Regions from separate parts of the Homo sapiens genome. Here region 2 is linked to region 1. The links come from fine-mapping of genetic effects on gene expression. A gene starts in region 1. The other region holds a variant in brackets. All regions are shown on one strand. Distances are between the middles of the regions. Region 1 holds the start of ANKS1B (ankyrin repeat and sterile alpha motif domain containing 1B). Region 2 overlaps ANKS1B (ankyrin repeat and sterile alpha motif domain containing 1B).

The links. PIP is the estimated chance that this variant, and not a neighbour inherited with it, causes the effect.
Region 2: its variant is the best candidate, but not a certain one, in a credible set for the expression of ANKS1B in cerebellum (GTEx, PIP 0.57).

The regions. Positions count from the first base shown.
Region 1 is chr12:99,981,493-99,986,880 of GRCh38, reverse strand. ANKS1B (ankyrin repeat and sterile alpha motif domain containing 1B) reads left to right here and starts at 1,945. Exons shown (of 27, transcript NM_001352186.2): 1 at 1,945-2,777. The coding sequence starts at 2,644. RefSeq lists a silencer at 1,923-1,972 and an enhancer at 2,085-2,915.
Region 2 is chr12:99,408,989-99,414,376 of GRCh38, reverse strand. The region is part of intron 11 of ANKS1B (ankyrin repeat and sterile alpha motif domain containing 1B); the gene reads left to right. Among named protein-coding and RNA genes, the nearest start is that of GARIN6, 240 kb to the left of the region's middle. The variant G/A (reference allele first, on the strand shown) is at 2,780.

The DNA of each region.
Region 1 (5,388 bases):
TTTCACTTTTATTTTGCATGTTAGTCCCCATGTAGCCAAAGCCTTTATCCTCTTCAACAAAAAACTATGAGGTGCAGTCACTGCAATGTCTACAGAAAAACAAAGTTATGAGGTCACTAAAACCAAAGAGTTTGAAGCTGAAAAATTGGCTTTGATTATCATATGTCAGTAGAATGCCCGAACTGTGGAACTGATTCTTAGAGTAAATCATTACTAATGGTTTTCCCATTGGGGGTGGGGGCTGCATGATTTCGATAAGATGACTCGGGGCCTGCGGTCACCAACTCATCCATGATTAAATGTTGCTTGTGAAAACTGTGGGTGATTTTCAGTTCTGACCAATTGAATACTTACAGTATATTCTGGGAAAGGTGTGTTTTGCTTAGGTGGCAACATTAGGAAAAAGGAAGAAGGATTTCCCTATGCCATTTTCAAAATGAATGTGATGGCTCCTTATCTCGTTTCTTTCATTGGTCTGCTAGTCCCATTATGTCAGGGATTATATTATTATAACATAGATTATCTTATTAAAACAGATTCTAACACAGAAAACAAAATCAAAATGAATTAAAAAACTACACTAGCCAAAATCTACATACTTCAGGAAACCTCCAATAAATAGCCATAATTTACCTAATATTTTGAATCATTGAAATGAAATCTCAGAACACAATGAATTCCATAAAAATGTTTTAATATACTCTTGTTATTTATCTCTAAATGCCTTTTAAGTTTCCCCCAGTTATTTATTGAAAATCTTTGCCTACAGCAGACAGTGCCGGATTTGAGCCTTGGCTCAGTTACTTTCTATCCCTATTATCTTGCGGGTAATCAGTTTCTTCATCTCCAAAATAGAGATGAAAATGGTCCTATCTCATGCGATTGTTGCAAGGCTTAATGAGAACATGGAAAGCACTTAGCATAGTGTCTGGTATGTAGCAACTACTCATCAAATGCATGCAATAATTATTGTCTGTCCATTTCGCTTTTCCATGGGGGGCAGGAACGTATATTGGGAAGCACATGGTGTCTGGAGTGAGTCTGTTCTGGGGTCTAGTTCTGAGTCAGCCACTTACTCCATGTGGCATCTTGAGAAATTTAATTAACCATTTGAGCCCTATTTCCTCATTTCTAAAATGGATATAATAATATCCAGTTCACTGGGTTGTTGTAAGCACAGTGCCTATTAAGTCCTCTTCTTACCAATCAATTATCAACAAGTGAACATTTATGAAGTCTATTCCAAGGACAATGCAAAGCACAAGGTGTAACAGGAAGTTTTAATAGAAAATAAACGCGCGTTCTCCACCACGGCCAAGGAGAGCATCTAACAAGTCATGCCAACCATGCACAATGAATTGCTGATGATATATGCAAATTAAAGTGGATCTCTAATCCATGCCCATTTATATTTTTCGAGTGTAGATGTGGATAAATTTTCAATGAGAGCCTTTTTCCTGGTATTCTTACAAGTCAGCAGATCTCCAAAGCCCAACTAAAATATGGGCTGATTAAAGACTCCAGAAAAACTGAAACAGTCGCAAACTGCTCGGTGGCCAGTGCCACAGAAACTAGGACGAAACGAGCCTCTTCTTTCTAACCAAGGGCAGATCTCAGGCTCTCTTGGGGAGGTAAAGCGGAAGGGTGAAATGCCGGTCAAGTTGCCTAGACTCTGATGGAAGCGGTGGCCAAAGGGCCCCTCCCCAGTGTCACCAGCCTCCCCATTCCTGTCACGGAGGATTTTCCTCAGGCGTCGTGACAGACCCGAGGCGTGTTGCCGGGGCCCGCCGGGCCGAGGAGGAGCCGACGCGGCCCGGGGAACTCCAGTCCTCACACGGTTAACGCTCTTCCAAGGAGAGTGGAGGAGGGAGGGTCCCCGCCCACGAGAACGAAGAGAATCTCAGGGCCGAAGCCCCGCCTCAGCCGGCCCGGCCCCTCCCCGCCAGCCCGCCACCCAACTCGGGCCGCACCAGGGGCCGCACCTGCCCGCGCGCACACGCCCCCCGCGCGCCAGGCCTCGCCGCCGCCGCCGCCCTCGGCACGCGCCCGCTGCGGCTGCCCCCCACCGCCCTGCCTCGGCGCGGGCCACAGCGCACGAGCCGCCGCCGCCGCCGCCGCGCTCCTCCCCGCCGCGGACGCCGCCCCCGCGTAACCGCCGAGGAAGCCGAGGCGAGCCCGGGTCGGGCGCGAGGGCGCGCGGGCCGCTGCTGCCACCGCGGGTGTTCCCTGCGCTCCCGCTCCAGCTAGGACTCTCTCTGCCGCCTCCTCCTCCTCCTCCGACCTCAGTCCTCACCACCCTCCTCCCGCTCCTCAAAAGCACCCCCGAGTCCCCACCCCCTCACGCCGCACCCGCGGGAACGAGGCCTTGGGAATTCAGGGGAGTGGCTGTGGGGGCGCGTCGCGGCTCCCAGCTCGGCCAGCCCCTCTTTCAAGACATGGTCTGATCCCCATTGTAAAAGCTGCGCCCCGAAGAGGAGGAGAGAGTCGTGCTCCCTGCCTGGGGCTGCAGGGAGCTCTCCGTGCTGAAGCTCTTGCATTATTTTAGGGTGGGGCGAAGAGGGCCCTGGATTTTGGGGAGTGGGGGTGGGTGGGGAGGAGGACCCGAGGGGGGCAAGGACTCTGTGGGGGAGTCGGTGAGAGACTATGGGGAAGGACCAGGAGCTGCTGGAAGCTGCTCGCACTGGAAATGTGGCTCTGGTGGAGAAACTCCTGTCTGGCAGGAAAGGAGGGATCCTGGGCGGTGGATCCGGACCCCTGCCCCTGTCTAATCTGCTAAGGTAAGGACGGGCACCAGCTCCGGGGTTGGCACACCTCATTATGCATTGTGATGGATATACGTCCTCCTCCTCACGGTTATTGCACCTGGTGGCTGCCAGCGATTCATTCTTAAATTAGGTAGGAAAACAGACTGCGTGTATGGAGAGGAGGTATGAGCCTCCCAGTCAGATTGATGCCTTAGATTCTTTGAGTAATTTTAAAATAGCCTTCCATCAATGCGTCAGTAAGCTACTTTTCCTCTGAGCCCTGGTGCAGAACTTGTACATGTACTAGTGTTGCTTGAAGAAAATCGACGTTCCGCCCGCTTTCCATCAACATTTATTACATATTTGCAGCTTTGAACGCAGCCTTTTTTGTCTAGTTAAATGAAATTGGCAGAGAATCTCTTGCGTGCATGCAATTACCCTGCAAAAGCCACAGCCTTCGGTGGCTCCTACCTTCTCTTGCAGAAGGCGTTTGCTGTGCCGTGGGTTATGATCCCACAAAATGAAGTGAGTGAACCTTCTTTCTGGTGAGATGTCTTCAGCACAGGGTGTGTATAAAACTTGATGGGGCAGGTTAGGCAGCCCCAGCAATACTTTCAGTTACCTGGACATAGCTGAGTGAAACTTGGTTGTTATAGCTCAGGATGAAGGATGCCAGGTTGGTATTGGGATACTGTATATGGAGTACGGTAGAGGCCTTTTAACGTGAAGATGTCGTAGGTGAGACTGGTATTGCTTGGAGAATCTTTCTAAGATGACATTTAAAAAAAATGTCAAGGTCTTCATTCAGCAGTACCTTGGAAATAGCGGGGTTGATTTCCATACTTGAGAAACTATTAAAAGTTGTATTGATGGACAAATGAAATCAACTGGGAGGGAGGAAGCCTGGAGAGTATTCACTAGATACAATTCAAGGGAAGCTCTTTAGTTTCTAAAATCGTGGCTATCCAATTTATCCTGGGTATTTTTGGAGTCATCAATTGTCATTCATATCTTCGCCTTAAAACATCTCTTGGATAACCCAACTATAGTTGTAAAAATTTTAGAAAGCCCAAGTGATTTCCCTGGTTTTTTAAAAACTGTTCCATGCTACCCTTGACAAGTGCTTAATAGAAACTTTTGGGTGATGACATTGCGTTCTTTACACAAGTTCTCATAGGTTGTGGTGGTCAGACAGTGCAATTAATTATAGGGCTAGCTAAAAGGGAAAATGGAAAGTTTCTATTACAGTGAAATAAATTGAGTTGAAAAATAGTCGATGGGATTTTAAAAAGCCCCATATGTTATTCTATATACTCGTTGACAGTGACATTTTATTGGAATGATAGTTCATGTCAGAAGAATGAATATTTATGGGACATTTTTTCAATAGGTCATAGAGATGACTTGTGTGTACTCCCTTGTTAAATAATCTTCTCTTTCAAACACAGGTAGACAATGTGTGCATATTTCAGATTGCAGCTCTAATAATTGCCTGTAGTCACATGTAGTTTATGTGAAAGCAATTTATCTCTTTACAGTTTTAAGTTACACGTAAAATAACAACGTTTGCTGTGGATCCATCAGTTATAAAAATGATTATGTCTAAAAACTGGTATGCTGAAAGAATTTTCTCAAAATAAACAATTTCTTCGGGAAAACATGAGGAATTATTTGAGAACAGTGAGAATTTCACTTAATTTTATTGTGATAAATCGTATTTTAAAAACACTCCTTGTGACAAAACTCAAAAGCAAACATCCTTTAAATACTCCTTTCCCAGCTGTGATTTTTTTTTTTTTTTTTAAAGAATAGATGTCAAGTTTTAGGGATAAAACACCAAGTATTTAATGTTAGTGGACACTAAAGTATCAAAATAGTGACCCACAGTGTATATCTTGAGTGAGAGGTTTTCTCTTTTGCTGGTGTAGTAGTAGTAGTAGTAGCTCTACAACAAAGATTGCACATAGAAAACAAAAGTAAACAACATGTGTTTATTAGAGTACTTCGAACCAAGTTGTAAAAATCACAAACAAAACCAATAACCTTTAAACTTGCTTTTATCCATCTTATACTGAATAGTGTCTGAAGAAAATGAGAGTTGAAATTGTATTCTTTGGGCAATCATTTGCATAAAATGACATTCCTAAGAAGGCACATTTTATTTAGTTGTCACTTTATTTCAAAAATGATTGTCATCAGAAATTTATTGGCAGGATAATGGAAAATGTGTCCCCCGTCAAACATAATGACACTTTGAAATTTCTTAATGTTTTAGAAGGAACTGTAGAATATGTTTGGCACTTTTTCCCCGCTTGCTTTATTACCTGGGTTGTGTAATAATGGTGTCAGACCCTATGCTAAGTGCTTACACGTGTCATCTCATTCAATTCTTGTGTCAGCCTTAGGAGGTCCATTGTCATTTCACAGATGAAGGAATAAAAAGATAAGATTAAGGACTTGCCCATGGTCACTTAATTAATAATGGCAAAGATTTGAAAATCTGTGATTCAGATTTGTTTTACAACATTTTAAGTCTCATTCATTGAATCTGTTTTATTCACAAAAGTTTAAAGGTATGTGGCCAATTTAGACAGGCCAATCTGAACATTTTTTGCTATGAAGAATAATTTGAAATTCCTTAAAT
Region 2 (5,388 bases), 570 kb after region 1:
ATGTGTCTTTATACTCTTACTAGTGATGTCTAAGAAGGGAAAGAGTTCAATTTTACTGGGGCCAGCAAAATGTCAGGCTCACTTAAGGCCTAGAGAAATGGTTTTCAAATTATTTAGCCAGAGAACTCTGTTAAAAGAAAAGTTTATGTAGGCTGAGTTATATGAAATTGCTATTTTTGCAGGTAATACGGTTGAATATCAGCAGTTTCATATGTTTCAACCTAACAGAAACCTAATAGGTAAAAGCAAAAAAAAAAAGTATAACTGCTCTGATTGATGGTGGAGTAGGGGTGTTCAGAGGACCTCAGAGAAGGGCTCAAGAGCAACTGTCTGCTCTCAGAAAGCCCTGGGCTTGAGAGCAACTGTCTGTTCTCAAAAAGCCCTGGGCAGGAAAGGCAGGTGCAGGAACCTGGAACTCTCAGGGCCTCGGTCAGGGTGTGTGTGTGGGCGAGGGTGGTGCACCGGGTGAGGGCCCTTGTTATGGAGCTGGCAGAGAGGAAGAGAACATCAACAGCTAGCAGGAGAAGAGCTGCTTTGGACAGTTGCCTGTATCAGTAAATCTGACCTTGCTCCTATGTGGGATTGCAGTGTCTGAGAAGCAGTACAGAGTCCCTACAGTCTGTTTTATAATTTGTCTTTTTAAATAGAAGATGAGTATGCATATTATTTCATAGTCAGATACCTCTATATAAAAATGAAATGAAGAGCTAAAGTCAGGAGATATAAAGATTTTTAAAAATTTTCTGCCTTTCTCTTATAAAAAATGTAGTGACTGTAAGAGTTTAATGCATAGCAGAATTAGATACTATTTATTCCCATTTTCCACCCACTTGCGTTTTATTTCAACAGCTTTTGAAACAATGTAGATTTTTAAAAAAATCAATGCTACCAATAGACTGAAGAGTAGGAAAATTGTGCGTTGATATAAAGATGAGAAACTCAAGAGTTATTAGGCTCTTGGCTTTACTTGTAAATATGTTTGCTTCTCTTTGCTTTACCTATAGTGTGGTGTCTTTCGGGGAAAATGCAATCAATTTGAAATTCACTAGATTTGTGTTTTAATTTCATCTCTCCCGCTTAATTTTAATTTCATCTCTCCCACTTAACTTTAATTTCAGCTCTCCCACTTAACTGAGATTATCTGTGAATCTCAAGTCTATAAAATGGAAAGAGTAATAGCTACTTTTGATACTAACATTATAGGCTTCAATGAGACAACAAATTTCAAGTGCCTAGAAGAATGTCCACGTCTCTTAAATACTCAATACTCACTCACGACTTCTTTAACTCCCTTGTGGTGATCATATATTTTTTGTCTATGTTTGGCCATAATCTATAAAGCAGAAGAATTGCATTTGCCTACCTGAAGATAAGGAGTTCTACATCTTTAGAGCAAGTCTTGATCACATTAACATCATATTCATAACAACCAAAAAATTGTACTTCACTTAAAATTGTTTTCCATTTATTGAAAAATCAAGAAAATATAATAATTTTCCATTTGCATGACATCTGTGATGAAATGGCAATGATACTTACTTTCTTCGAGTTGTCCAGACTTCCTCAAATCTCTTATATACAGTCTTCAAAGTGATCAAGACAGAGAAATATGAGAATTCTAACTGATAAAGCTGAGTGGATCGCAAGTGTTTACATTTTCCTCCTCCTTACTTGCAATCAAAATGGTAAAAATAAATACAAAATTAACAATAAATTCATAGCAGTGATGAAAAACAGGGAGAGTTACTACCTGAGGCATTTGCGAAATTCTAAAAGATAAAATCAAATATTGCTAGATTTAGACAAAACAAGAGGAAAAAGCCCACCATCCAACACTGGTGGAAGAGGGGAAGATGTCACTGGAACAATGAGTGGATTTGACATCCTCATTAGACCTCTGCGAAGAATCTCAAGCCTGAGCAACAGGGCATGGTTATCAAAGCCAGGGAGTGGACAGGGCAACCAGAACCTTAGCATCTCCTATGTGGAGCAATCAGCTTTGTTGTTTGCCCACCAGATGGTAATAAGTATCTAAGGAAGGTGAAGGACCCCCTGAAGCTCCTAATGTGGGGACAGTGCCCTAGGTATAAAAAGTGCTTGACCAAGACACCAGATGGTTGAGGAAAAATTAACAACCAAAAAGAGAGAAACCAGGCTTAATGAACAAAGTAAGGAACCTTTAAGAAAACTGACTTAATGCCAGAAAAAGACTCTAATCAGTATCCTCAGAAAGATTTGAGAGGTGATTGAACTTATAAAGTTAATAACAGGCTATTTTAAAAATGGAATACTTGAAAAAAAAGAAAAGTTTTTAAAATTAAAAATAGCATAATCACACCAAAAGTTAAAACAAAATGCCTAAAATTATGTGCCTTATCTTATTTGTTCATTGATGTATCCCCAGAGGCTACAACAGCGCCTGACCACACAGCTGATAATGGTCAATAAGTATTTCCTAGCAAATTAATGAAGGTTCTTTAGGACAATGAACTGTAGAATACTCCCAGTATATAAAACAGGAAGGGTCAAAGAGATCCAATATCCACGCACTAGGAGCTCTAGAAATAGAAGCCATACAGTAAGTAAGAGAGTGTGATGTTAGTACAGGAATAGACAAATAGATCAATGGGAATATAGTCGAGTCCAAAAATGCAAGCCCAATCTCTATTTGGAAATTTAGTATATGATAAAGGTGACATTTCAAATCAGTGGATAAATAATGGTATTGGGACAGTAGGCTATCATTTTGAGAAAAAAATATTTAGAATTAAATATTTTC[G/A]TCATATGTATCACACAAAATATCCCAGGTTGATATAGACCCAAAGGAAAATAAATATTTCTACCAAAAAACACCTGCACTCATATGTTTATTGCGGTGCTATTCACTATAGAGAAGACATGGAATCAGCCTAAGTGCCCATCAGTAGTGGATTGGATAAAGAAAATGTGGTACATATACACTGTGGAATACTATGCAGCCATAAAGAAGAATGAAATCATGTCCTTGGCAGCAGCATGAATGTAGCTAGAGACCGTTATCCTGAGTGAATTAACACAGAAACAGAAAACCAAATACCACACATTCTTACTAATAAGTGGGACCTAAACATTGGGTACACACAGACATAAAGATGGGAACAGTAGACACTGGGGACTCTAGCAGCTCCCCCAACCCTGGTGCTCCTGGCCCAGGGTTTTGTAAGGCGGTTTATGGGAAAATTGAACATGTGTTGGGGCTTGGAATCTTGACTTAACTGTTTTCCCACTTTCCACCCTATTTCTACTTTCTTTACTGAGTAAAATTCTTTTCCACCTGCTCCTCCAACCCAGGTGCCCCTGGCCTGCCCAGAAACTGCTGATGCAGTAGTGAGACCATGAGTGTGGGGAAGGGTCAAGGTCAGATGCACTTACTGAGTTGCAGGGCAGAGCCACTGCATTCCTGTAAGAATCTGCCCTCACCCTGTGAGTGTTTCCATGACCAAGGGAGCAATACGTTAAGTAGCAAATAAAAGAACACCATAACAGATCTAGAGAGAGAACATGGGAAAAAGAAAAAAGTTTTTGTACCTGCTCTTGAAACAAGGGGTCCTACCTTTTTATGTTGCACTGGTTCCCTGATTCAATCACAGTCGTTCCTGTGTCTGTTCAACTTTACCTCCTCAGAGAAATTTCCTGTTAACTTTTGTTTGTTGGTTTGTTTGTTTGTTTGAGATGGAGTCTTGCCCTGTTGCCCAGGCTGGAGTGCAGTGGCCCGATCTCGGCTCCCTGCAAGCTCCCCCTCCCAGGTTCACGCCATTCTCCTGCCTCAGCCTCCCGAGTAGCTGGGACTACAGGAGCCTGCAACCACACCCGGCTAATTTTTTGTATTTTTAGTAGAGACGGGGTTTCACCGTGTTAGCCGGGATGGTCTCGATCTCCTGACCTCGTGATCCGCCCACCTCGGCCTCCCAAAGTGCTGGGATTACAGGCGTGAACCACTGTGCCCAGCTGAAATTTCCTATTCACTTTATAGAAAGGGTCACAATTTTTTTTTTTTATAAAAGATCAGAGAGTAAAATAGTTAAGTCTTCGTTCATAAGGTCTACGTTACAACTACTACACTCTGCTACTGTAGCAGGAAAACAGCCATAGACAATACATCAATGAATGGACATGGCTATGTCTCCATAAAACTTTGTTTTCAAACAGTGAAGTTTGAGTTTCATACAATTTTCATGTGTTACTAATATTATTTTTCCTTTTCTAAAAAACGATAAAAAATGTGAAAACCATTCTTAGCTTTCAGGCTGAACAAAAATATTCAGAAGCCTGGCTTTGGCACATAAGATGTAGTTTGCTGACTCCTGCTAAGTAAATATGTATAGAAGCAAGTCCTCTGGAAAGTAGGGTGATATGAGGACTGGACCACAGTGGAGGGATATGTTTTAAAGTGGAGAAGCCACAACGAACACAAGTGCAATTCATTCTACATATCAAAGCTTGGCAAATTCAATATGTAATTTCAGTGAATTTGTGAAAACACTTTTTCTTTTTTATACTGAATGGCTGAGTGCAATTCTATTTGAGTAGTAAAAATTATATTAAATCAAACATGTTTAAATGAATATTCTAGACCTATTCTTTTTTATCTCCATTTTAATATTATGACCATCTCTTTATTCTTTTCTCCCATTGCTGTTATTCCATTTCTCCACATAGATATCTCTTTTTTATTTTAATTTTTAGTTTTTTGGGGTACATAGTAGGTATATATATTTGTAGAGTATATGAGATATTTTGACACAGGCATGCAGTGTAATAATCATTTTGGGGTAAATGGGGTGTTCATCAACTCAAGCATTTTTCCTTTCTTTGTATTACCCATAATTCAGTTATACGGTTTTAGTTATTTTAAAAGGTACAATAAATTATTGCTGACTCTAGTCATAATATTGTGCTATCAAATACTAGATCTTATTCATTCCAACCACATTTTTGAGCCCATTAACTATTCCCACTCCCCCCACCACCCAAATTACCATTTTTAGCATCTGGTAACCATCACTCCACTCTCTACCACTGTGAGTTCAATTGTTTTAATTTTTCTAGTTCCTACAAATAAATGAGAACATGCAATGTTTGTCTTTCTGTGCCTGGCTTATTTCACTTAACGTAATGACTTCCAGTTCCATCCATGTTGTTGCAAATGACAGGATCTCATTCTTTTTTATAGCCGAATAGTATGCCATTGTGTTTATGTACCACATTTTCTTTATCCATTCATATGTTGATAGACACTTAGGTGGCTTCTAAATCTTGGCTATTGTGAATAGTCCTGCAATAAACATGAGAGAGAATGAGCTATGTTTTCGATATACTTTTGGGAATATACCTAGCAGTGTGACTGCA